Regions from separate parts of the Homo sapiens genome. Here region 2 is linked to region 1. Evidence: fine-mapped expression QTL. A gene starts in region 1. The other region holds a variant in brackets. All regions are shown on one strand. Distances are between the middles of the regions.

Region 1 (8,339 bases):
CTTAGATATTTGGTCAAATATTCTAAATGTTTCTGTGAAGGTTATTTATTTTTTTGTGGATGAGATTAATATTTAAATCAGTAAACTCTGAGCAAAGCAGGTTTCCCTCCATAATGTTACTGGGCCTCATCCAATCAGTTGAAGTCCTTGGTAGAGCAAAGCCTGACACCTCCCCTTTCCATCTACTCCTGCTTCCCCAGTGTTACCCAGCAAGAGGGAATTCTTCCAACCGACTTTGGACTTGAACTGCAACTCTTCTCTGGGTCTCCAGTCTGCCCATCTGCCTGCCCTACAGATTTTGGACTTGCACCTCCATAATTGCATGAGCCAACTCCTTAAAATAAGTCTTTCTTCACATATATACACATATCCTGTTGGCTCTGTTTCTCTGGAGAATGCTCACTGATGCAGGGATGATCAGATTGGTTGTGCTATTGTGGAAGTAGTAGTTTTCCTCTAGATGCTGATCCTGGCAGGGCAGATCCAGGTTTTGTGGGGCCTGAAGCTTATACAATGTCAGGGCCTGCTATAAGAAAAAGCATAAAGAATTATGGATATGAAATTACAACTTTGCATGTCTGACAACTGGAAGAATTTTCCAGACTCTTTTGGAATCATGCTTTTCAAATCTTATTTCTTCTTTGCTACTTTCATAGGTTCACAGCTGGCCCATAAAACACACTCATAGTGTGATTCAACTTCTGGCCCTGCACCTTCCCATCAGGATATGAGGCAGCTCAATGGCCATTCTTACACCGAGACAGCCAGCAATAATTTCACTACTGTGCAGAAAAAATATCCAACACTTGGAAATAGATTATTTCACAGTATTTAACATTTTCTAAAAAAAATTTATTTTTAATTTTGGAGACAAGGGCCGTTCCCAGGCTAGTCTCAAACTCCTGGCCTCAAGCAATCCTCCTGCCTCAGCTTCCCAAAGAGCTGGGATTACAGGCATGAGCCACTGCACATGGCTGACATTTTAGTAACATGCCAGAGAATTAAGCCTGTCTCTCAGGCATATGGCTCTCTTGGGGACTCTAACTTTCTCTGAGTCACTCCCTACAAACAAGAGAGTCCAAACAGTTAACAACCCTGAGAAGTTAGAGGTTAACTTGTAGAATATTGATAAGGTGAGAACGTTTTTGTTTCTTGCTTGGTAGAGAAGATGCTCCAAATGTGCTCTTATTGCTCCATAGGTGGTTATTCAGTTATGTACATAATTCAGTGTTATCAGTCAGCTTGGGTAGCTGTAACAAAATACCACAGACTGGATGGCTTAAACAACAAAAAATTATTTTCTTACAGTTCTGGAGGCCGGAAGTCTGAGATCACGGAGCTGGACTTTTATACATCCACACCGGTCAGTCATTAGCAAAGCACTACCTAGGAAAATGTAAATTTTCAGGCACTTCCCACTCTCTGTGCACATGGACAGAGCTGCTGTCTTCAGTCAGTTTAAATGGCTCACCGGGCCTGGAGGATTCACTTCCAACATGGCTCACTCACATGGCTGGCAAGACAAGGTGGTGCTGGCTGACAGCCTGGGATAGCGGGTGAGGGGGGATTGAGTTTTCTCCATGTGGGCCTCTCCGTGGGGCCCCTTAGTCTTCTTCGCAGATTGTCATTTGGGTTCCAAGAGTGGATGCGTTAAAAAACAGGAAGTAGAAGCTGCCAGTTTCTTAAGTCCTAGGCCCAAAAACTGGCAGAGGTATTCTATTCATTGGTGAAATCACAAAACCCATATAGATTCAAAAGGAAAAGAAATAGACCCCGTTTCTCTCAATAGGTGAGAAGGAATTCGTACATCTTAATCTGTTACAATCTTCCTTCTAGACACAAACTATTTACATTCCTCTTACATGGAATATACAATCACCCTCTTCTCAAGACCTCCAAATATTCCATCCTGTTAAGCATCAGGCTCAAACTGGCATCCAGAATAACTTAAAAAATTTTGTCAGGCGCGATGGCTCACGCCTGGAATCCCAGCACTTTGGGAGGCTGAGGCGGGCAGATCACTTGCGGTCAGGAGTTCGAGACCAGCCTGGCCAACATAGTGAAACCCTGTCTCTACTAAAAATACAAAAATTAGCTGGGCATGGTGGTGCGTGACTGTAATCCCAGCTGCTCATGAGGCTGAGGCAGGAGAATCGCTTGAACCTGGGAAGTGGAGGTTGCAGTGAGCCGAGATCACGCCACTGCACTCCAGCCTGGGTGACAGAACCAGACTCCGTTTTAAAATATTAAAAAATATTTTAAATTTTGAAATTAATTTTTTGTTAGACAGGGTCTCACTCTGTTGCCCAGGGAGTGCAGTGACATGATCACAGCTCACTGCAGCCTCAAACTCCCAGGCTCAAGCGATCCTCCTGCCTCAGCCTCCTGAGTACCTAGGAGTACAGGTGCCCGCCAGCATGGCCAGATAATGTTTTTTTTCTTTGTAGAGACAGGTCTCGCTATGTTGCCCAGGCTGGTTTTGAACTCCTAGCCTCAAGCCATCCTCCTGCCTCAGCCTCCCAAACTGCTGGGATTACAGTCATGAGCCACCTCACTCAGCCCAGGATAACTCTTGATTACCTATTGTGTGCCAGACACCTACACCTGCTGGACTGTAAAAGCTATGAAAGGATCTTTATCTGTCTTTTAAATTCAAACAAGTACTTGATCCATAATAAATACTCTATACACATTTACCAAATAAGTAATCATTTCTCATTTTTTAACTTAAAAAAACCCCCTAACACTCAGAGAGGATGCAACTTCCAAAGGTTATGCAGTAATAGTAAAATCTGGATTTAAGGCCTATTTGACTTAAAATCCACTCTAAAAGACGTTACATGGTCTATAACTCAGTAGGACTTACCTTGTGTACGAAGGAAAGATGAGTTATAATGACAAAATGAGATGACAAGGCTAAGCTATTAGCTGTGGGAAGGAACAGATGGTAGATGACAGCTTGAAGAAGTCAAAATTTGGTGATTGTCCAAGTGTGGGAAGGACAAAAATGGACAGAGCCAAGGATGATTTTTCAGACTCTAATAAGAGTAGGAGGCCAGGAGAATGATGAAATAGGCAAATTTGGAGAGGGAATGGACATGAGGAGCTCAAGTTCATAAATGGGCTAACCAGCAGGGGAGGCAAAAACCCTAGATCCAGGAATGCTGTATAGATGATAGCTTTTATGTTTTCCTTAAAATTTTTGAAACTGTGGTAAATATACATAAAACCACTTTAACAATTTTTAAGTTCAGTGGCATTCAGTGCAACCATCCTATCTACAAAACTTTTCCATCACCCATTAAACAACTCTCAATTCCCTCCTCCTCTCAGCCCGTAGCAACCACCATTCTACTTTGTCTCTATGAATTTGGCTACTCTAGGTACCTGATATAAATTGAATCATGCAGTATTTGTCCTTCCGTGACTGATTATATATCACTCAGCATATCATCATCAAGATTCATCCATGTGGCAGCAAATGTCAGAATTTCACTCCTTTTAAAGGTTGATTTTCCTGAAACTCTGATTGGAAAAATAAAGGCTGAATATTCCATTGTATGTATATCACATTTTGTTTATTCATCCTTTAATGGACATTTGGGTTGTTTCCACATTTTGGCTACTGTGAATAATGCTGTTACGAACTTTGGTGTACAAATACCTGTTTGAATTCCTGCTTTGAGTATATACCCAGAAGTGAATTTATTATTTAAACATTCTATTTTAAATTACATCCTGTAGTAAGGTGTACACTCCTTTAATGAAGTCTGCTAAAACTAGTTTCCCCAAGTCAACAGGAACCTCTCAAACTGTAATGTGAAATTATCACTGAGTGTTTTTTCTTTTTAGACATGGTCTGGTTCTGTCGCCCAGACTGGAGTGCAGTGGTGCAATCATAGCTCACTGCAGGCTCAGATTCCTGGGGTCAAGTGATCCTCCGGCCTCAGCCTCCCAAACAGTTGGGACCACAGGCAGGCACCACCATGCCCAGCTAATTTCTTTTTTTTTTTGGTAGAGACGGGGTCTCACACTCCGGGGCTCAAGTGATCCCCCAAAGTGCTGGGATTACAGGCGGAAGCCACGGTGCCGGGCCTTATGATTGAATTTTTGAAGCTTATTGTTAGTTATGTACTTCTTTACCTATGACACTAGACTCCCCAAAATGCCAAAAACAAGATTGGTGTAATTTATCATTGTGGTACCCTTAAGCTGTCAGCATAGTGCTTTGCATACAGCAGGCGTTAAATGTTTGAAAATACAGTTCCAATATATCATTTGTGGCATATTAATAGGCTATTAATTCAGTAGCAAAAACACCAGCTTTTGCATCTTTCAAAATATAAGTCAATCTTTTTTCCCTAAAGAAGGCAGCTTCGTCCCTCCCCTCACCCCCCTAATACTCTTCCATCATATACAGGAAAGAAAGTACTTATATATATTAAGTGGAGTCTCCAGAGGGAAGGATGGCAGGATACAATAACTTTTCCAAGAGATCAACAGTTCTATCCACAACACTCGGGGAAAACTATTTCGGGGGTCGGGTGGCGGTGGAGAGGGGGCGTTGGGAGCGGAAAGAACGTTTTTCTGAACGCAGGTGTCACTGGGCCAACTTCACCCAGCCTACATTCCTTTAAGGCCCCCGTGGACTGCTCTGGGATGAAAGCGGAGGCTGACTGGGACTCCAGCCGCCGGCCGCCTCGCGTGGAGCCTTGCTGCTCCTCTTGCCGCCTTCCGCTGGCCAGGACCGTTTTTAGGCCTTTGCCACGCCTCGGGAGCGCCACGAACTCAACAGCCGCCCAAGCCGCCTTCCGGCTCGCGGTCTGCGGACGCGCTCGGAGTTGGGGGCCTTCGCCAACAGCTGCCGTACCGTGCCGCGTCGCAGCCGCACGCTAGCGGGGTCAACGGCGCGGCAGGCGCAGGGGTCCTCGCCAAGGTTCGGAAGAGGACCTTGAAAATGGCTTCTGGGCATGCGCCACAGCGGCCGTTACGAGACGCAAAACCGACGCCTTGGAACTGAGAGCCTAGAGGGACGGAGCTCGGCGCACCATGAGGCTCCCGGGGCCCAAGGCCGACCGTGAGAGCGCACGAGGTTGGCGAGCCCCGCGGGGAGGCCGAGGCGCGGGTGCGGGCGCCGGCGTAGCCGCGGCGGTAGCGTCACGCAGCGAGGCCGTGCGTGCGCGGGCGTCAGGGCGGCGCTGAGTTGAGGACGCTGGCGGCTCCGCGACGAGCTTTGTTTTTTCGGTTGGGCATGCTGCTTACCGCAGGATGATGGAAGCGACGGCCCGTACAAAGACAGAAGCGTTGGTTTCAGTGAGCAGGGTTTCTTTTTCTTTTTCTTTTTTTTTTTTTGAGACGGAGTCTCGCTCTGTCGCCCAGGCTGGAGTGCAGTGGCGGGATCTCGGCTCACTGCAAGCTCCGCCTCCCGGGTTCATGCCATTCTCCTGCCTCAGCCTCCCAAGTAGCTGGGACTACAGGCGCCCGCCACTACGCCCGGCTAATTTTTTGTATTTTTAGTAGAGACGGGGTTTCACCGTTTTAGCCGGGATGGTCTCGATCTCCTGACCTCGTGATCCGCCCGCCTCGGCCTCCCAAAGTGCTGGGATTACAGGCGTGAGCCACCGCGCCCGGCCAGGGTTTCTTAATACAAGTTGGTGACTAACATGTTGCCTAGATTCCAGATTAAAGTCTAGTTGTTGGAGACACATGTGCAATAGAGAACTAAAATTTAAATTCAAGTTCGTGAGTGAATTGAATAGATGTTGGAGCATCTCTAGTTTATCAAGGACACTTTTTTTCCCCCTCGAAATTTCATTTTGACGATGTGTGGAAAAATTTTTGAAAAAATTTGAAGTTGAGGGTCTTAGCAATGAAATGGGCAGAACTCCTAAGATTGCTCCGTTTGTATCTAGTTGAACTATTCATGATAGTAAAGGGAAAGGATGGCTGTTTTCGCTCTTAGTAGGGTTTGACGTAGTGAAAAGTTACGCTTTCTGAGCCTGTTTGCGAATGTCTGAAAAAATACTGGATACATTCTGTGGATTAAATGGTAGTCCACATTTAATCCACAGATTGGCTATTGTGAATAATGCTATGAACTTCGGTGTATAAATATCTGTTCGAGTCCTGCTTTCGTGTTTTTTTTTTTTTTTTTGAGTACTCAGAGGTGAATTCATTATTTACTTTTAAGCGTTCTATTTAAATTATATACTGTAGTAAGGAGTAAGAAAGAGGCTTTCGTTCTTCCCTTCTGAACTAGGCAGCTATTTCTTTCAGGTATCGCTTTACAAAAACGGTTTTGTATTTATTACAGCTGAGTCAGTGCTGATTCTCTCAAATAGAGCTTGAAGGATAAATCTTCATTTTTGTTTCAACAAAACTTCGAAACAAAATGGAAGAAAATAATCTACAGGTAATGCCACCCTTCTTAGCTGCGTCTTTGACTCTTAAGAATTATCACCTGGATGTATTGTGAGATAATTGCAAACAAAATTGATCACATTTAGGTCCTAGCATTTCCCGGGGTGTTGGTTGAGGTAAACAAGGGTATACATAGATGAAAGAGTCACATTTGGTGTATGTAAGTAAAATAAATGTTTTTACTTTTATCACTAGGTGTTAAAGTAGCAAAATCTATTTTAAAAACACTCTAAGTAGTGTTCCCCAATGTGGTTGTGTATATGGATCACCTGGGGATTTTGTTAAGTTGCAGATTCTGTTTAAGGAGGTCTAGGGTGAGGCCCAAGCTTTTGTGTTTCTAAAGTTTCTAGGTGAAGATGCCACTGGTTTGGAAACCACATTGGGAGTACCTAGGGTGTAGCTCCCTGCTGTCCAGTAGCTACACATGGCAAGTGGGCACTTGAAATGTGGCTAGTGGAATTGAGGAACCGAACTTTAATTTTTTTTTTTTTTAAGACAGGGTCTTGCTCTGTTGCCCAGGCTGGAATGCACTTGCCCAGTCACGGTTAACTGCAACGCTGACCACCTGGGCTCATAACTTCATTTTTAATTTTAAGTTTAAAATTGGATATTTGATTACATTATTGGAAAAAAGTATGTTTGGAATAACTTGGGTATGTGCATGTATATTTTAAATGTAAAGTTTTTAAATCCAATACAGACAAGTATTTCTGATGAAGGTTTTGGAACTGAGACGCAGAAGTACAAAATATGTAGCACACTGGATTTTGAAGACTTAATGTGAAAAACAAGAATCTAAAATCTCTTATATTGATTTTATGTAAAAATTATATTTTCGATATATTGGTTTAAATATTCTAATTCCGATTATAATTCCAATTCTTGGGCTACAAGAAAGTTGCCTACTTGTATTTTATCTATTGGACAGTGCTACATCAGATATCAAATACCCTTTGGACTACTTTTATAATACTGCTGTATAGGAATAGTAACAGCTATTACAGATTAATCTTATAAATTCTGTTTTTTCTTGGGGTCATGTTAAAGAAAAAATTAGTCTGACTTTATTGAGGACTGTTGCAATAAGAACATTGCAAAGATGAAGAATTTGACCAGATAGGGTGATCAGATATCAGGGGTAGAAGATTCTGTCTAAACTGACTTAGAAGTATTCTTATTAAAACTGGGCTAGGCAGCCCAAAGATAGGATTGGGGCCAGGGTTTGAGGTCTATTCAAGAAGATGGCTCAGAGGAACCTGACTGAAGTTTGGTCAGTGAGAGAGTCTTTTGCTGGTGTGTTGGAATGTTCCTACAGATGCCCAACTACTCAGGAGGCCGAGGCCAGAGGATTGCTTGAGCCCAGGAATTTTAAACCAGCCTGGGCGACATAGTGAGATCCTCTCTCTCTCTTAAAAAGAGTGTTGGCTGGGTGTGGTGGCTTACACCTGTAATCCCAGCACTTTGGGAGGCCAAGGCGGGTGGATCACGAGGTCAGGAGTTCAAGAAGAGCCTGGCCAACATGGTGAAACCCGTCACTACTAAATACAAAAATTAGCCAGGCATGGTGGCGCATGCCTGTAATGTAATCCCAGCTACTCGGGAGGCTGAGGCAGGAGAATTGCTTGAATTGAGGGAGGCGGAGGTTGCAGTGAGCTGAGATCGCGCCACTGCACTCCAGCCTGGGTGACAGAGCAAGACTCCGTCTTGGGGGGAAAAAAAAAATATATATATATATATGTGTGTGTGTGTGTGTGTATATATGTGTGTGTGTGTGTGTGTGTGTGTACATATATATGTGTGTGTGTGTGTATATATATGTGTGTGTGTGTAAGTGTGTGTACATATATGTGTGTGTGTGTGTGTATATATATGTGTGTGTGTATATATATATAGTCAGTCATTATAAATATTTTCCAGCC
Region 2 (8,339 bases), 43 kb after region 1:
GGTGGCTGAAGGAATCATGCAGCTGACCTGCTTTATGGCAATTCTTAAATTCTTACCCTGTTATTCTTAATGGAGTTCTCAGGCTACTCGGATTCTTGGGGATAGAGACATTTAAGATTGCTATTAAATCTATTGCATTTATTGACTATTTCCAGCCTAGGATCTCCTAAATTCTAGACTTACATATCCTATTGAGACGCTTTCAAGTATTTGTCCTACAGGTACGTGAAACTCAATATCTCCCCAACTAAACTCATCTTTCCCAAAACTGTTTTCTTCTTGTATTCTCTCTGTAAATGTCATTGCAATCCACAAAGTCACCAAAACTAGAATTACGGATATCACCTCTGCCTCCTTCCTAATAACATTTTCCCATGTCCAATCAATTTCCAAATCTCAGATCCTCATTTAGTATTTTTCCTATTCATCATCTCTTCTCCATCTCCACTAATTACTTGAGTTTTGGCCTTTGTACCTTTCTCCTGGCTGACTGCAAGGGTCTCCTTGCTGGTCTGCCAATCTCTACTCCATGCTACTGTCACTGTGGTCTTTCTGAAACTTGCCTCTGAACATGTTACTCTCTTATTTAAAACCCCTCCATAGCTCCTTCGGCATAAAACTCAAATCCCTCAGAACTTGCAGTCTGGCCTAGACCTGCCTCTTCAATTACCAACAGCTGTATTTTCTTTCTCCTTTCTTTTTTCTTTTTTGAGACGGAGTTTCGCTCATTTCCCAGGCTGGAGTGCAATGGCGCACTCTCGGCTCACTGCAGCCTCCGCCTCCCGGGTTCAAGTGATTCTCCTGCCTCAGCCTCCTGAGTAGCTTGGATTACAGGTGCCCGTCACCATGCCTGGCTAATTTTTGTATTTTTAGTAGAGACACGGTTTCGCCATGTTGGCCAGGCTGGTCTTGAATTCCTGGCCTCAGGTGATCCATCCACCTCGGCCTCCCAAAGTGTTGGGATTACAGGCGTGAGCCACCACGCTCGGGCTGTATTTTCAAATAATGTAAAATAGCTTTGTGGAAAAAAAAAAACACCCTGCATTAAATATTTCATGGGAAAAACTAATACACAGAAGAAACACAAAGAATGGAGCCTACAGTCATAGTCATTAATCACTGATGGCTGACTCATGCCTGCATGTCTAAAAATTCTTACCTTTTTAATGCCAGTTTCTTTCACAGGTGACCTGATTACAGTGTCCCTATCCCCTCTATGTCTTAGACCTGTTTTCCAACCCTCAGAACTCCCAAACATTGGCCCCTTCCCTCTCTATTTCCCTCTGGCTCCATTCTCCCTTCCAGCCTGACTCCACAGCCACAACTCTTTAAGCAACACCTTCAATTTGGCACCCCTTGTTCTGCGGTCTCAAAAAAGCTGAAGAACTGCAACCCTTGATAATATCAGCCATCTATACTAACTGCTCTATTACTGGGGCAACTAAGCATTATGGAGAAAATTCACTGACTATGGGGACTGATAGTAAAGCAAATTTAGAATCCAAAATCTTAGCTGGGGCTTGGCAGCTCTCTTACCTCCCTGGACAACTCAGTCTTGTTGAATAAATAATCACTGAGTGCTTGCCATGTGCCAGTTTTTGTTCCATTACCCCTTTTGTTCTGAAAATGCTTTTATATCTCATCTGAAATCACTTAATGTGGGTCAAGTATAGAAAAAGAAATGGGATTACTTTAATTTGATTGCTTTATAGTAATGTTAAGAATATGTGAAAAATGACCTCATAAAACGACAACATTACCTATTTGACATTTCTTAAATACTCAATGCCCTGTAACGATGGCATAAACTTGTGCACAGTTTTCTCTCCTGGGGTGTCCCTACCTACCTCCTGTGCTTAGTAAATTCCTAGTCATCCCCTAAACTTAGCTCAGTGTCCCCTTCTCAGTAAAGATTTCCCTGGCTTTCAAAGAACTGTGGCTAGGGATCCTATCCTGTGTGCCCCAGTGACACTGTATGCTGTGTGCCTGTCTCCCACGTAATCAGTGAATCCCTTCAGAGCAGGGGCTGGTCTTTTCTAGCTTGTTAAGTCTTGGCATGTGGCAGGCAATCAATACACATGTACCGAATGAATGATTGCATCCTGGGACCCTGGAAGAATTAATTCCTTAACCTCTTAGTCTCGATGTCCTCACTCAAAAATATGGATAATATTTATATTACAGAGTTTTAAGAATTGAGAGACAGTAACATTCATGAAATCATTTTCACAAATGATAATTTCCTTCCTTTTGGAATATGAACGCGTCAGAACCTTGCTATTCAAGAGACTTATATCACCCCTAGATCTGCTTTGCCACCACATTCCCAAATGCCAGCAGAGTATACACTTTCTCTCTCAAAATATCTTTTTTCTTTATTAGCACTTTTCAGAGTGAATTTCATTCTTTTACAAGAGTTGGTGGGTGTTTGATGAGTTGTAGAGAACTATGCAATAAAGTTTAGGGTAGGTGGTTAGGCTGACTTACCAGCTGTCTTCTTCATAAATTCTGGCCTTATGGTATATAATTGGTGCTTCAGAAGAATTATACAATCTATGTCACAGATCTTCTGCTCAGAAAATATTAAAACTAGGATTTAAACTTGAGACTAAGGATCTGCTATACTCCTGTTTCTCAAGTAAATTTAAAACAATTTATATCATGAAAAATTTAAAGATAGACAAAAGCAGACAATGGTAGAATGAAGCCCTCCAGCAGTTATTTACATCTTCATTCTGGACAAAGATACTGAGTAAAGTCACACAATTGCTCTGTTACTCCGTTTCCTCATCTGTACAATGAGAACTTGGATTACACCAACACTTTTAAAACTGGTTTCATGATCTCCTTTAGGGACTTCTGGAAGTAGGTATGGGAGTGTGCTCAATGGAAAATCTATTCTTATCTTACCTAAGTTGGAGGGGATATAAAGTAAAATTTTATATACTAGGATTCATAATATATTTGCTTTATTTTTGAAACAGGTCTTGCTCTGTCACCCAGCCTGGAGTGCAGTGGCATGATCTTGGCTCACTGCAACCTCAGCTTCTTGGGCTTAAGGGATCCTCCCACCTCAGACTCCTGAGTAGCTGGGACGACAGGCGCACCACCACGCCTGGCTAATTTTTTAATTTATTTTTTGGTAGAGACAGGGTTTCACCATGTTGCCCAGGCTGGTCGTGAACTCCTGGACTCAAGTGACCCACCTGCCTTGGCCTCCCAAAGTGTGGGATTACAGGCATAAGCCACCATGCTTGGCCTCATAATATATTTGAGCAAAGGATTTTGTAGCTAAATAGTCTAAAAAAATCACTGGATTAGACAACTTCCAACATTCTTTTCGGCTCTAAAGTAATGTGACTTTACATATTTGACATATATTTAAATATAACTTGATAAAACTAATTTACTTTTTACATCAGTAGTTAAAATGTTTTTCTATTCAGTACATATTCAGTATGTGCAAGTGTATGAATGTGTTAGAATTTCCCCTTTTTCAATGACATTTGAACAATTTCAAAGAGAAAAGAAAAACTACTGAGGGTTTGATTCTCTTGAAAAATATTTTATGTATTTGGAATTAGGTAATGTCTGCTTATTTTTATGAATTACAAAAGTCTTTCTCTGTAAATATAAACTCCAGATTGTCAGAATTAAATTTATGGAGATAATATAAAACATTAGATGATCTACTTTCAAGCTCTTCAATATGTGAGTTTAAGTAGAGAGAGAAAAGGGAAGAGAAAGGGCAAGAAAGGGAATATCCATAAAAAGTTCATGAGAAGGAACGATCAATTTATTTTCTTCTACTAAGTTTTGCTGCTCATTTTCTTATTTTACCCTAAATCTTACTCCAATAGAAAAACAGTTACCTGAGACACCAAAAATAGTATAGCAAAATTGGTTTAATCCCAAGAAAGCAGAAAATAAAGGAGTCAGGAAACCATGGTTTATCAGAAGACAGCACAGGAAGGCTAAGTTATAGGAAGATGTGTGGTTTTAATCAAGAATTGATTTTTTTTTTTTTTT[G/TG]AGACAGGGGCTTGCTCTGTCACCCAGGCTGGAGTATAGTGGTGCAATCTTGGCTCACTGCAACCTCCACTTCCCAGGCTCAAGCAATCCTCCCCTTAGCCTCCCAAGTAGCTGGAACCACAGGTGTGCATCACCACGCCTGATTTTTGTATTTTTTGTAGAGTGATCCTCCTGCCTCGGCCTCCCAAAGTACTGGGATTACAGGCGTGAGCCACCGAGCCCGGCCAAATGTTGCTTTCTAAGTTACAGCTATTAAAAACATGAAGTTGATACATAGGGAGGTAATGTTTTCTTTAGTTTTCTATGTGTATTTTTCTCAGATATTTCAATGGTATCAATGAACTTTCACTTTTAATCATTAAGTGTCCTCAAGGCTGCTGACAGGCAATCCTGCATTTCCCTGTTCCATTCATGCTCACTCTCTGTGAGGACTTCTGCACACCTTTTCCTTTCTTCAAACCCCTTCCTCTATCTTCCCTGTCCTTGCTCTTCAATGAGCATCTTGTTTCCTATTTCACTAAGAAATCAGAAGCAACTGGAAAAGAACTTCTATATGCTTCCATTTCTCCTCTACCTGCGTCAGTAGCCATGTTCTCTGCCTTCCTCCCTCCAACAATCCAAGGGCGCTGTTCTAGCAACAGTCCCTTTTCTGGATCATCAGTTTTTCCCTCTTGTTGAGCCAATACTATTGGTACTCAAATATGTTATATCATCTTCCATCTTAAAAATGAATAAAACCTGCCCTACTCCAAATCCTCTCTTTACTTATGACCCCATCTTTCTGTTTCTTTTTTATAGCAAAACCCCTCATAAGAATTGTTTATACTCACTGTCTCCAATTTTTCTCCTCCCAAACTCTCTTTAACCCATGCTCAAAAGGCTTTAGTCTAAGGGCATTCTACCAAAGTGCCTGCCAAAGTCATCAATAGTCTCTATACTGCAAATTCCAAAGGTCAATCCTCAGTCCTCATTTTCTGAGACCCACTCCAGCAGCGTGTGACACAGGTGCTTATTCCTGCCTTTCTGAGGCCGTTTCTTCATTTGGTTTTCAGGACAGGACTCTGCTTTGCTTTCCTCCTCTGATCACACTGGTGGTTTCTTTGCTCATTCTTCTTCCCAATCTCCCCGACCTCTAACACGCTGGGGTGTCCCCACCTCAGTCTCTGGTTCTTTTCCATCTCTACTCGTTCCCTCTAGTTACTTATTCAAGTCTCATGGCTTTAATTACTACCTGTATGCTGATGATGTAATAATTTCCAAACTTCTATCTCCTGCCCAGATCTCCCCACTGGACTCTAGTTGATCTATCCACCAATTGCCTACTTGACATGCCCCGCTGGATGTTAAATAGGGATCTCCAATTTAAAACGTCTAACACCCAAGCTCCCAATTTGTTCCTCTTGTCTTTCTCATCTCAACAAATGAGAGCACCATTCTTCCAGTTACTCAGGCTTAAAACCTTGGATTACTGAAAACAGCCTTTTATCTACTTATTTGTGTCCCTGTCCTCTCTGTTACTCCTACAGATTGTCTATTCCCTATCTAGCAGCCACAAGTCAGATAATTTTACTCCTCTGCTCAAAACCTCCAATAGCTTTTCTATCTCACTCAGAGTGTGAGTGGCAGTCCTTTTTATAATGGCCACAAGACTCCTTATCATCTGACCTCATCTCCTATCACCCGCCTCTTCATTCACTCTGCTTTAGACCCGCTGCTCTCCAGGCAGCTACTTGAACGTGCCAAGAACACTTCTCCCTCAAGGTCTTTGTCCTTGTTTCCTCTACCTCAAATACTCTTCCCCCTAATGCCAGTGTGACTTGCTTCCCACCTCCTTCAGGTCTCTACTCAAATATCATCTTTACCGGGGGGGGCCTCCCCTGACTACTATATATAGAATAGCAACACTTCTCTTCACGATGGCCCTCCCATCCTTTTTCTCCAAAGCGCTTATGAACCGTTTGTATATTATATATTTACTTGTTAGCTTATTGTCCATTTTCCTCTTAGAATATAAGCTCCAGGATGGCAGGGACTTAATCTATTTTTTTCACAGCTGTTTCTCTAGTATCTAGAATATGGCCTAACACATGGTAAGGCACTTAATAGGTGTTTATTGAAGAAATGAATATGTTCACAGAAGCCGTATTAAAAATTTTTGCTTATATAATTTTACGCAAAACCCGAAGATGATGAAAGACCTATAGCATTAATAATTTGGAGTATGGAGAACTCATTTGGTAATAGGTAAACATAACTTCTAAGAGGGTCAGGTCAGTCTCCCAGGGAAGAAACTATCCCTTAACTGGTATTTTCTTATAAGCACTACAAAATATTAATGTAAAAATTTAAACAAATAAATCTTTCTTATACTTTTAGATACATAATCCATTTATTGGGTATCAACTTACGTTTTAAAACATGGGTCACCAGACATCAGTTGCATACTGATCAAAACCTAAATATAAAACAAGAAATATCACGATTATAAAAAATTATAAAATGCTTCCTTCACAGCACTTAGTCCGATATTTTCTATTGGGAAAGCATTAAATAAAATGATTGTTGAATTGGGTTATATCCACGGGAGGCTAAGGCAGGAGGATTGTTTGAGCCCAGGAGTTTGAGGTTATAGTAAGCTATGGTCATGCCACTGCACTCCCGCCTAGGCAACAGAGCAAGACCCTGTCTCTATTAAAAAAAAAAAAAAAAAAAGAAGAAGTGGGTTATATTCAATATTCAATTACTGCTCCATATAGATTAAAATCATTTTTAACATTCAAAACCTCAAAATTGCAAAAATCTGAATGGAAATAATGGAAACAAATAGCAATAATAATTTACCAGTAATAATCCTGTGGGTGTGTGGCTGTGCTAATCTATCTGTCTTTACTCCCAAATTCCTGTGGTACCTAAGTGTCTGGTAATGTTTTCCTTCAAGTTGCCACGTTGATGTTTCAAGGGATGCCAGCTGGTGGCTTCTAAGAGTAAAAAGCTTCTGACCTTTGTTCCAGCTTTAGATCAGAATTTAAAACTTTTTTTTTTTTTTTTTTAATTCTTGAGATAAGGTCTTGCTTTGTCACCCAGGCTGAAGTGCAGTGGTGCTATCACAGATCACTGCAGTCTTAAACTCCTGGGCTCATGATCTTCCTGTCTCAGCCTTCTGAGTAGCTGGGACTATAGGTGCACACTACGCCTGGCTAATTCTTTCCTTTTTCTTTTTTTTTTGCAGAAATGAGGTCTTGCTTATGTTGTCCAAGCTGATCTTGAACTCCTGGCCTCAAGTGATCCTACCCCTTGGCCTCCCAAAGTGCTAGGATTATAGGTGTGAGTCACTGTGCCCAACCAGGATTTAAAGCTTTTCTAATACTTTCTAAGATGCTGCTATTCTCTAGTTGCTGACTACCTTTAACAGTCAGTCATAGGACCTCTTTATGTTCTTATGGGAATAATAATGATAATGGTAATAGTAACAACAACATTAACAACAATCATGATTTGAGAATTCATTATGTGCCAGGCATAAGCTATGTGTTTAATATGCATTATTTCCTTTAATTTTCAGTATTCCTAGGAGAGAGCAATTATTTTCATTTTAACCTCAGGGAGATTAAGTGATATTTTAAAAACCAGATAACTAGTAAAGGGCAGAGCTGAGATGTGATCCCAGGGCTGCACATAGCAAAATTCATAGTCTTAATGAATACAAGAATATGTACATTGTTGTATGTTCTGCAGCTAATGGATGACATGTATCTTATATAGCCTTATTTCATTCCTATCTCCTCATCCCAGCACCTCCATGACTCTTTTTTCTCTTTAAATGCCAAATCTATCCTGCTGCACTGATTTCCTCATCATCTCTTCTTTCATAGAACCCTGAGGTCTGCTTTCCAACTCCATCAAAACTGCACTCTTGAATATCACGGATGTCTCAGAAAGGAGATGGAGATGGCACATACAGCTTTAAGGAACTGAATAGTTAAGTAGAACAGAGATGTGGGACAGTAGTTGAAGAAGATGAGAGGTTAATTTTTGTCTTTCTTTATAAATATGGGAAACAGTGGAGCTGTTTCTTTATATGTTGATGAGGATGATTCATTCGAGGTAGAGATGATGAGAAGAGGGGATAGTCTAAGGGGTAAAGCTCTTGATTAGGCAAACTTTGGATTCCAGAAGCCAAGAGGAAGGACTGACTTCTGACAGGAGAGGGGACATGCCATCCATTGTAACAGGAGACAAAAAGGATAAGGCGGGAGAGGCAGGTAAAGTCTATGATGGGAAGATGAGGGAATTTGAGTTTAATGGCTTCT

What was found.
Region 2: its variant is fine-mapped to the expression of HENMT1 in whole blood (INTERVAL, PIP 0.99).

Annotation. Positions count from the first base shown.
Region 1 is chr1:108,657,937-108,666,275 of GRCh38, reverse strand. It overlaps HENMT1 (HEN methyltransferase 1), which reads left to right and starts at 5,183. Exons shown (of 8, transcript NM_001102592.2): 1 at 5,183-5,313; 2 at 6,314-6,412. The coding sequence starts at 6,392. LOC105378890 (a long non-coding RNA gene) reads right to left here and starts at 2,009. Exons shown (of 2, transcript XR_947679.3): 1 at 1,307-2,009; 2 at 1-526. RefSeq lists enhancers at 4,286-4,874, 4,875-5,464 and a silencer at 5,050-5,219.
Region 2 is chr1:108,614,527-108,622,865 of GRCh38, reverse strand. It overlaps EEIG2 (EEIG family member 2), which reads right to left. Exons shown (of 11, transcript NM_001010883.3): 5 at 6,438-6,484. Among named protein-coding and RNA genes, the nearest start is that of HENMT1, 42 kb to the left of the region's middle. The variant G/TG (reference allele first, on the strand shown) is at 4,030.